Homo sapiens: one gene and its partners. The protein of the gene in region 1 purifies or fractionates together with the protein of each later gene. This does not show direct contact. Each region holds a gene or a part of one and is shown in the gene's direction. Other genes may lie near its edges.

What was found.
Region 2: the proteins of HERC4 (region 1) and ZC2HC1A fractionate together in Homo sapiens (co-fractionation; one large-scale study listed by BioGRID). This does not show direct contact.
Region 3: the proteins of HERC4 (region 1) and SMO purify together in Homo sapiens (affinity purification with western blotting; one study listed by BioGRID). This does not show direct contact.

What each region holds. Positions count from the first base shown.
Region 1 is NC_000010.11:67,953,284-67,956,783, reverse strand, and holds part of HERC4 (probable E3 ubiquitin-protein ligase HERC4), read left to right. Parts: intron 1-1,653; coding exon 1,654-1,821; intron 1,822-2,045; coding exon 2,046-2,189; intron 2,190-3,500. UniProt on the Homo sapiens protein: Probable E3 ubiquitin-protein ligase involved in either protein trafficking or in the distribution of cellular structures. Required for spermatozoon maturation and fertility, and for the removal of the cytoplasmic droplet of the spermatozoon.
Region 2 is NC_000008.11:78,686,562-78,690,300, forward strand, and holds part of ZC2HC1A (zinc finger C2HC domain-containing protein 1A), read left to right. Parts: coding exon 1-47; intron 48-2,660; coding exon 2,661-2,812; intron 2,813-3,739.
Region 3 is NC_000007.14:129,191,515-129,195,253, forward strand, and holds part of SMO (protein smoothened precursor), read left to right. Parts: intron 1-3,739. UniProt on the Homo sapiens protein: G protein-coupled receptor which associates with the patched protein (PTCH) to transduce hedgehog protein signaling. Binding of sonic hedgehog (SHH) to its receptor patched prevents inhibition of smoothened (SMO) by patched.

The sequences.
Region 1 (3,500 bases):
GGTACACAAAGTACTTTGGGTAGCTATAAAGAAGACTGCTGCATGTGATATGTATATTCTTATGAGAACATTTATAAAAAAAGGTTGCAGTGAAAATGGAATAACTTAACCTATAATCATTTTATATATTAAAAATTGTATAAGCCTCTTTCATTACAGAAATATTCAATCTTTATAAACCGTTTTACTAGTTTACTTGATAAGATGTTGGTTTGTTTCAAAATCTTGTTTCATTATATGTCCCCTTTTTATATGCTTGGTAAGAGATGGAAGTCACTAGAGGTGAGAGATGTTAAAAGTAGGAAGCATTTGATCTCGTTAGGAAGAAGATGTGAAATTTCCTTGAAGAAAGTTTCAATAATAAGGTATTAAACATGTTCCTGGGGTTGGTCACCATTATCTCCTATTCCTCTTTCTTTTCCCCTTCCTATCACCCTTTCCCATCCATTTTATGTTGAGAGTTCTTTCATTTATAGAGAGGATTTTTTAAACTAATTCATATTATGACTTTAAAGGGTTACAGTAAGTTTGCTTTATCATTTGATCCTGTAAATAAAAAAGATTTTGAGCTGCTTCCTCTGGTATAGAATATCTGACTATACCAACTAAGGATTAAGGAAAGGATGAAAAGAAAGCTTGAATATTTAATAGTCTAAAAATATTTTAAAAAATTAAAAACCTTCAAATCTTGGTAACCATTTTTATTCTGTTCAAATAAATGCATTTGGTATTCTAAATATTTTTGTAGTGTTCTATACTAACAGCTAGTAAGCCAATTTTTTGGAGGTCTTTGTTAAAACGATAAGTTAATAACTTGGTGATTTTACCATGGGATATTCCATTTTAGAACAAGAACTCAGGGAGAACCATAATAAAAGAACAAAAGTTTTAAATGGTAAAAGTCAAATCCTTGGTTCGTGAGCACATACCATGATCACTTAGTTAAGTGAATTTGTGTAATGCTTCCTTAGCCAGATCATTCCTTATTCTTTGTTTTTTATTTTTTATTTTTGAGACGGAGTTTCGCTCTTGTCGCCCAGGCTGTAGTGCAGTGGTACAGTCTCAGCTCACTGGAACCTCTGCCTTCCAGGTTCAAGTGATTCTCCTGCCTCAGCCTCCTGAGTAGCTGGGATTACAGGCACACACCACCACGCCCTGCTAATTTTGCATTTTTAGTAGAGACAGGATTTCACCATGTTGGCCAGGCTGGTCTTGAACTCCTGACCTCAAGTAATCTGCCCTCATTGGCCTCCCGAAGTGCTGGGATTACAGGCGTGAGCCACTGCGCCCAGCCTGTTCCTTATACTCTTTAAAGGTTTGTTTTTGCTCCTCCCTCTTTACCCTCCCCTCCAGTGAATGTTTTTTAGAAAAACCAATGCTCAGATTTATCAGTATTACTACCGTTCTGTACTGGCTTACTCTAATGGTGTTATGAGTTATACATTATACATTAGTATAAAAACATTCAAAAGGGTACTCTTTATGCTCAGTTTATTAAGTTTTATGCTGTACGGGATACTGTTAGGTGCTATGTTAATTCAGTAGCATAGGAATTATAGAATACCTGTAACTAATAGGTAGAGGTTAGCTTGTTTCAGTCACAGTAGCTTTATTGTAGCATTGCTGTTAAAATGTTAATCTTTTGTTTTCCAGATGGCTATTGATCAGGCCCACAGGCAGAATGTCTCCTCTCTTTTTCTCCCAGTGATTGAATCTGTGAATCCCTGCTTAATTCTAGTGGTGCGTAGAGAAAATATTGTAGGAGATGCAATGGAAGTCCTTAGGAAAACAAAGAACATAGATTACAAGAAGCCACTCAAGGTAATTTGACATTTTCTGTGGTATAATTGGGACTTTTATTCAGAAGCTATGTTTAAAATTTTCCTATTTGTTTTTAGTGAATCTTTTAAACTTAATAAATAAAATTATATTTATTTTAAACTATTAATTGTAGAGTATTAGTAATAAATAACATGTTCTAGGGTCTCCAGAATGTACTTTCATTTCTTTACAGTCTATTTGGTGTTTGCATTGTGCTATTTTAGGTTATATTTGTTGGAGAAGATGCTGTGGATGCAGGAGGGGTGCGCAAAGAATTTTTCTTGCTCATCATGAGGGAATTATTGGATCCTAAATACGGCATGTTTAGGTATTATGAAGATTCCAGGCTCATTTGGTTTTCTGATAAGGTAAAATGTCCAACCATCTAAATTACTTCTGTGTATATACCCATGTATTTATACCTGTATGTATCAAGTTAATTCAGTAAATAAGGAATTACTACTGGATCCCTAACATATAAGATCTGCTTTATTACAATTTGAGAAATTATAAACTTTGGACTTGGAGTTGTCAAAATACATTTGATGCTTACCACACATTTTAAATTAACAAAATAAATTAAGAGATGGTTAGCCAGAAAATAATGTTGACTATTCCTTCTGCTGATTTCAATTTGAGGATTGAATAATAATCACCAGATTAACTTTTCTGTTGGGAAAAATTAATTTATCATTAGGGATCATTGATTTATCTACCTTGTCATTTAGAGCAGGTCAGCAGACTATAGCCCATTAATCTCAAAGAAAAAAAAAGTCACACCCACTCTTTTACCTATTGTCCAAGGCTACTTTCATGCTACAATAGCAGCGGCAGAGTTTAAGTAATTACAACAGTGACCTTATGTCCAGGAAACCCCAAAATATTTGCCATCTGGTTCTTTATAGAAAGTTTGCTGACCCAATTTAGTGATCATAAGTGAAAAGGATGGATCAGTTTAGTAGAACTCCTGACTTGAAAGAAATTTAGATAGAATAGCTATTGGTTGTAAAAACCTCAATGTAATATTTAATCATTCTGCCTGGAGGTTGGCTGTCTTGTGTAATGTTAGCAGCTTAGTGCCTAGACTCTAATTCATCAGGGGTTGCAAAATGGTGTGCTACTCTAATATTTCTTTTTCATTTATTAGCTTGGATACTTCTGTATAGAGAAATTTCCTCACGTTTTCTGATTCCTTAGTAGTGCAATTCATAGGAAAGGATTCTATTTAGTTACCAATTTTTCAAAAGAATGAATTGGTTCATTAGCATAGTCCACTGGTAATAATTCATTTTTTGTGTTTTGCTTTCAAGTATCATTAGGTATTCATAGGTTTAAACATACTTGATGTTTTTCAATTCACTGCAGTTATTGTCTTCATTGATGCTCATATTGTCCCATCTTTGTTCAAGGAGAGCTCTTAAGGTTGGTGCCCAAGTCCTTTTGAAACAACCTATATACTTTTTGGTACCTTCCTTGCTACCTTGTGTACTTACTATGACAGAATGTTCCAGACTTATCTTACACATTTACTGCCTAACAGTACCAACATTACCACCAATATTATGATTACTAAAATGTTTTAAATTGTTTTTCAGTTCTTTTTGTACAAAGAGTATACCCTAATATAGATAGACAGCCAGATAATATAGTTTTGATATAATTTAAAATTGTTATACTCT
Region 2 (3,739 bases), on another chromosome or scaffold:
AGAGGGTGGCAAACTTCCTCCTCCTCCTCCACCTTCTTATGATCCTGGTATTTGGAATATTGTTGACAGAAATGTTCATGTGGAAAGAAAATAATGATAGAGTTTTTATAAATTTTCACTTGTTAAGCTTAACTTACAATCATGGAGTGTTATGAGGCATAATCTTTAAAATTTGGTGTAAAATGGTGGTGGTAATCTAGTCATGTAGGCTTATAAAGACATTAATTTAGAACATGGAAGTGTATTATGTTTTTATTTTAATACTTTTATTTAAACAAGGCATTATAATATCATTTAAAAATTATTATAGTAACTATTAAATGTGAGTATTCCAGGAAATATTTTAACCATGCTCACTGCGGATTGAAATGTAGTCATTCAGCAGGAGTCATATAATTATGTTGCCTGGTTCCTTGGTATCTTCTCATCTGAGATTGATATAAAAAAAATCATAATTTTCCTAAAATGTATAATTCATGTGGCTCGACTACATTTATGGCTTAAATTTGTATATTGTTAAATTTTTTCTCATTGAGCAGATAAAAGTTGCTTGAGTCATTGTTACTAAAAGCAAAGCAAGATTTTTGCAACCTTGTATGAGATACTGAGATACCGAAAAACTTAAAGTGACAAAGTTGACACTTTGACATTCCTTATTAGAGCAGCCTAAAGAGGTTGTTAATGTAACAGGGTAGCCACATTAATGCTATGTTAGTACTCTAGATTGGGATTTATTTTCTAACAAAGAGAAAGTTCTTTAGCAAATCTAGATATGATCGTTTTTGACATTTTATTGTAGAGGAGAGATATAGTATATCTACAGATATAGTAAATATCTTAGATTTTATATGCCATAAGGTTTCTATTGCAACAAATAAGCCATAGACTATATATACATAATTATATATATATTTATATATAATTATATATGTTTATATAATAAATTATATATATTTATATAATAAATTATATATTTATATAATAAATTTTATATTTACATAATAAATTATATATATTTACGTAATAAATTATATATATTTACATAATACATTATATATATTTACGTAATACATTATATATATATTTACGTAATACATTATATATATTTACGTAATACATTATATATATTTACGTAATACATTATATATATATTTACGTAATACATTATATATATTTATGTAATACATTATATATATTTACGTAAGACATTATATATATATTTACGTAATACATTATATATATTCATGTAATAAATATATATATTCATGTAATAAATTATATATATATTTATATAATATATATCTATATAATAAATATATATTTATATAATAAATTATATATATTTATATAAATATATAATTATTTATATCTATATTTTTATATATAAACTATATCTATATTTATATATAAATATATATAAATTATATATATATAAATATAAAATGAGCATGGCTGTGTTTCCGTAAAACTTCATTTACAAAGACAGGCAACAGGCAGGCTGGATTTGGCCCATGGGCCATACTTTGCGAAACCCTGTTCTAGAGTATTAATAATTAACTTATATGAATGAATGTTTCTGGTATGCTTTAACTGATCCTGGGCCTCTTTTAATACTACCTTTTATTTTCTTCATGAACTTGAGTTTTCTCTCTGCTTTGAAGATATTTAGATATTGTGTCTTAACTCTACATAGCTACATTTCTCATGTCTAATATAAGAGAGTGAGAGGGTACCAGTTCTTCAGGATCGTTTGGGCTTTAGAAGTTTTTTTAATCTTTTGGGCCTGACAAAAACAGCTTATTTCTTTCTTATGAGAGGTTTAAGACCTACTCCAGTAGTAAGGAGGACAAATTTTTGAGCTCAGATGAATATAAATTGAAAAGGGCAAACTCTGTATCAAAAAAGTAAACCTGTTAAAATAAGTTGTAAACCTGTTAAATTAAGATTCTTTTTTGACACTACCAGATTTTTACATTTATTCCCAGTGTCTCATTTAGTTATTTTACAATGCTACAAAATATGGTTCTGGAATAATTTCAAAAGAAGTTTAATTTACAGTATGCTTTGCATTTTGGGAAGATATTTTATCTTGGAAACATTTGCTGTTTCTTAAATTTGAATTATGTCAGTGAGATATATTTTAATCACTTCTTCCATCTGTTGGGACTTTTAAGAGAAAATAGCACTTTAAAGATAAGTAAACTATTTCTTGACAGTTTTCCATTTGATGAAATAAAAAATTTTAATAGATGAGCCTGTATTTTAAAATGTATTTTAACGTCATGTATTATTACTTCCTAACTAGTCTGCTATATAAAGTATGTATCCATTATAAATGAAAACATAAAGGCAAAAAAGAAATAACGTTTTTCCTCTGCTTACTCTTTTGTACTAAGGATTTATCTTTTGTTTTTTTTCCTTCACACATTTGATTCAAAGCTAGAAGAAAATTGGAAGTCATGTACCAGCAGACTTTTTTTTTTTTTAACTCTTTACTAAGTTTAGACAAGTAAAACTGGGTAGTTATAAGGATATGGGAATTTTTGCTTATCAGATGTTATTACTTATATTTTTTGAATGACTGCATAGAAACTTAAGATTTTTTAATGTCCGTTTCAAGTACTATGCTATTAATCTGTTTCCGTTTTTATCTGTTATAGATTATATTCAATGTCCATATTGTCAGAGGAGATTCAATGAAAATGCAGCTGATAGACATATAAATTTCTGTAAAGAACAGGCAGCACGTATTAGTAATAAAGGGAAATTTTCTACAGATACCAAAGGAAAACCAACTTCTCGGACACAGGTGGTAAGTTCAGTTTTAATAATTGCTATAAACGAGAAAATGGCTCATGGACATTCATAGATTATTGTTTATGCTTTTCATGACATTAGACTATATTTTTCTCACCTGCTTTTATAGATATATAGTTTTATATATCTATAAAAGTTGTATGCTTTTAGCTCTTATATCTGTAAATCATTTCAAGCTAATTGTGTATAGTGTGAAGGGGCAATTGTTCCCTTTTTCTATGTGGATATTCTATTGTCTTAGCACGTTTTGTATATATAAAATATATAAAAACATTATATATATGTATACATGTTTTTAGATTATCGAGTGAAAGACCTTGTTACATATTCTTGGTCTTTTCTCAGATGTATATTAAGAATATTTTCTCCCATCCTGTGACTTGGCTTTCCATTTTCTTAAGGATGTCTTTTGAGGGGCAAAAATTTTAAAATGTGATTAAGTCCAATTTATTAATTCTTTATGATTTATGCTCCTTATCTTGTATCAAAGAAATCTTTGCCTATACTAGGATTGCAAAGATTTTTCTCCCATGTCTTCTATAAGTTTTATGCTTTTAGCTCTTACATCTGTAAATCACTTCAGGCTGGTATTTGTGTATAGTGTGAAGTAAGGGGCAGTTTTTCCTTTTGTTTTCTATGTGGATATTCTATTGTTTTAGCACGATTTGTTTAAAGGACTTTTCTTTCCCTGATGAATTGCTGAGGCACCTTGGTTGGAAATCAGATGAATATAAATGTATGGGTTTATTTCAGGACATGCTGTTCTGTTCCATTGATTTATATCCCTGTCCTTTAGTCAATACCGCATTATCACTATACTGAATAGTGAACCTTAATAAGCCTTAAAATCAAGTAGTCTAAATTTTCCTACTTGAATTCCTTTTAAAATTTTCTTTGGCAGCCGGGTGCAGTGGCTCCCGCC
Region 3 (3,739 bases), on another chromosome or scaffold:
CTCTTTCTGCTTGGGACTTGCAAGTAGGGCAGAAGCAGGTGTTGGCTTGAGCTGGGTAATGAGTAGGTAGAGTGAACCCAAGCCTCGTGTGAGAATCACAGCCAGGTCAGCTGGTAGCCTCTGGCAAGTGATTTATCATGTCCCGAGTTAATGATCTTGATTTTGCATTAGACAGGGTCAGTGTTACCTGGCTCTTAGGGGTGTTTTTGTGGGTGAAGGATGAAGGTGATCTAGGTTGTCTTCATCGGTAAACTCTTGAATGTAGGAACTGGGTCTTCACTTTTTTTCAAAGCCTGTGAGTACTGAGTACACAGCCATGCTTCTATTCATGCATTCAGTTATGTATTGAATGTTTGCTGTATGTCACATGCTGCGCATGTAAGGATGAAGAATACAGATATGATCCTCTGTCATCAAGAAGACAGGCTGGACATGGTGCTCACACCTGTGATCTCAGCACTTTGGGAGGCCGAGGCGGGAAGATTGCTCAATACCAGGAGTTTAAGACCAGCCTGAGACCTTGCCTCTAAAAAAAAAAAAGGAAGACAGATAATTCAACAGGCTTTGGAAATACCTGTGAAAGGTACTGTGGCATTTTAGGGTACTGAAAAAGCATAAAGGACCCAAGGAACATCCCAGAAGAACTGGCATTTAACCCATAACTTGACACATAAGCAGGAATTGCCTGGCCGAGGGAGAGTTGAGGTTTGAAGGGATAGGAAGAGGAAATAGCATGTACAAAGGTGTAGAGGTAGGAGGGCTTGGTGCTTTGAAAGAAAGTATAAGAGTTGCAGTAGAACTGGATCAAAGCGTGTGAGGGGTGGAATTGTGAGAGATAAGACCTAAAGAATTAGAAAATAAAGGGATTTATACCTCATATTAAGTTTGGATGTTATCCAGGGGATGATAAGGAGCCATTGAAAGATTTTAAGCAAGGGAGAGATGTAATTGTCTTTGCATTTTAGCTGGATCTCTTTGGGTATGGTGTGAAGAAGCCATAGGAGCAGGGAAAGCCTGGAGCCTGGCTTCTTGACCAGGGGATGTTGAAGTAGCCCAAGTAAGAGACGATGGCGGTTGGGACTGGGTAGCAGGACAGAGGGAGTGGGCAGATCCCACTAACTTTCAGAGGTAGTGCTCATAGGGCACTGATGAGTTAGATGTGGAGCCTCAGTGAGCAGGAGGCCTCGGGTTTCAGGCTTGGATGGAAGGTGGTGCCATTCCCTTTCACTAAGATAGAGAATGCTAGAGGAAGAAGAAGTTTAGGCAGGAGGTGTGGCTTTGATTTTGGCCGTGTGAATTAGAGATGCTCATTGGACATCTATGTGGAGATTCTCAGCAGATCTGGAAATAGGAATTGCTGGAGAGAGGTGGCCACTGTGTGCTTCCTTGGCCCTGACTACTGAGGCTTTGGAAGGATGCCATTGACTGAGGAAGTTTATAGCTCAGGTTGGTCCAATTTCTAGGTCTGTATAGACCTCAGGTCTTTCCTCTGTCTTTCATCTCTCTGGCCTCAGGCTTCTTCAGTCACTTAGCATCTCTCCCCTTTACAGCTGGAAATGCCTCCTCCCGGGCATTCCAAGCTGACCAGACAAACATAATGTCCAGGCCGTGGTCCACCTTAGGCCAAACCTGGTTTAGTAAGTGGGGCAAAAAAGCAGAGAGGCCTGCAGCTGGCAGTGGCGATAGGTCCCTGAGAGCCAGCACGTAGCCTCCTTAACCACTGCTGTGCTCTGTGTGGTACATAAGTGTGTGGCCCTGTCACCTTGCCCACTTGCAGGTAAGTAGGAGAGAGACAAAGGCTGGGAGGAATTTCTTGTTTGCCTCTCACACATTGAATTGAGGGCTGAGAGGAGGAATGTTTTTGGTGATGGTGGGTTATTTTCAGGGACGGATCAGGAAGAATTTCCTTAGAGCTATTTCCAAACTTGGCTGGTAATCAGAGTCAGTTAAAAAGATATATATGGCCGGGCGCGGTGGCTCACGCCTGCAATCCCAGCACTTTGGGAGGCCGAGGTGGGCGGATCACGAGGTCAGGAGATCGAGACCATCCCGGCAAACAGGGTGAAACCCCGTCTCTACTAAAAATACAAAAAAATTAGTTGGGCATGGTGGCGGGTGCCTGTAGTCCCAGCTGCTTGGGAGGCTGAGGCAGGAGAATGGCGGGAACCCGGGAGGCAGAGCTTGCAGTAAGCCGAGATCACGCCACTGCACTCCAGCCTGGGCGACAGACCGAGACTCCATCTCAAAAAAAAAAAAAAAAAAAAAAAAAAAATATATATATATATATATATATATATATATATGTATAGGCTGGGTGCAGTGGCTCACACCTGTAATCTTAGCACTTTGGGAGGTTGAGGCAGGAGGATTTCTTGAAGCCAGGAGTTCGAGACCAGCCTGGGCAACAAAGTGAGACCCCATCTCTAAAAAAAAAAATTAGCCGGGCATGTTGGCACACACCTGTGGTCCCAGCTACACTGGAGGCTGAGGCAAAAGGATCGCTTGAACCCAAGAGGTTGAGGCTGCAGTGAGCCATCCTCACACCACTGCCCTCCAGACTGGGCAACAGAGCAAGACCCTGTCTCAAAAATACATACATACATATAGATATGTGTGTATGTATACACACACACACATATATGTATAGTGAAAATGTAAAATACAGAAAAACATACATGGACCTAAGTCTTTTTTAAAAAAAAATTATCTTTAATTAATTATTTGAGAAATGGGGTCTTGCTGTGTTGCCCAGGCTGGAGTGCAGTGGCTATTCAGAGGCTCACTCATTGTGCGCATGGTGCTTATGGTGCCTGGAATAGCTGGCACTACAGGCATGTGTTCTGTGCCAGCTCAAGTCTTCAATTTTGCTTCAGATCTTTAACTTTTTAATTGTGAAATATAACTGTATGCAGAAAACTGCATAAAACACAAAGGTACTGAATAACAAATAATTATAAAGTGACATCTGGGTCAATAACTAGACCACAGTCAGACCCCTGAAGCTCCCTCTGTGTCTTGTCTAGTCACATCCCCCTCCCCTTGCTCAAGAGGTTTTCAGTAATCACATCCTTTTTTTCTCTATGGTTTTACCTCCTAGTTTTGGAATCCATAAGCAGTATATTTCAGCTTTGCATGTTTTTGAACTCTGTTCAAATGGAATTTGTACAAAATAATATGCTGTGCATATTATTTCTTGCTTCTTTTACTTTATATCATTATGTAAGATTCATCCATGTTATTGCAGCTTATTTCTTTTTTGCTTGTTTATTTGTTTGTTTTTGTTTTTTTGAGACAGTCTCACTCTGTCACCTAGGCTAGAGTGCAGTGGCGCGATCTCGGCTCACTACACCTCCACCTCCTGGGTTCAAACGATTCTCCTGCCTCCGCCTCCCAGGTAGCTGGGACCATAGGTGCACGCCACCAGGCCTGGCTAATTTTTGTATTTTTTAGTAGAGACAGGGTTTTGCCATGTTGGTCAGGCTGGCCTCAAACTCCTGACTTCAGGTGAGCCACCCGCCTCATACTGCAGCTTATTTCTTCATTGCTGAATAATATTCCATTATATGAGTATACCCCCAGTTGTTTACCCATTTTATTGTCATCTCAAGTTTTTGCCCATTGCAAATAACATTGCTGTGAGTAGTCTTTTATGTATATCCTAGTACAACTGGCACAAGTTCCTTCAGGTATATGCTGAAGAAGTAGAATTGCTAGATAATAAGGCACGCATACTTTAGGC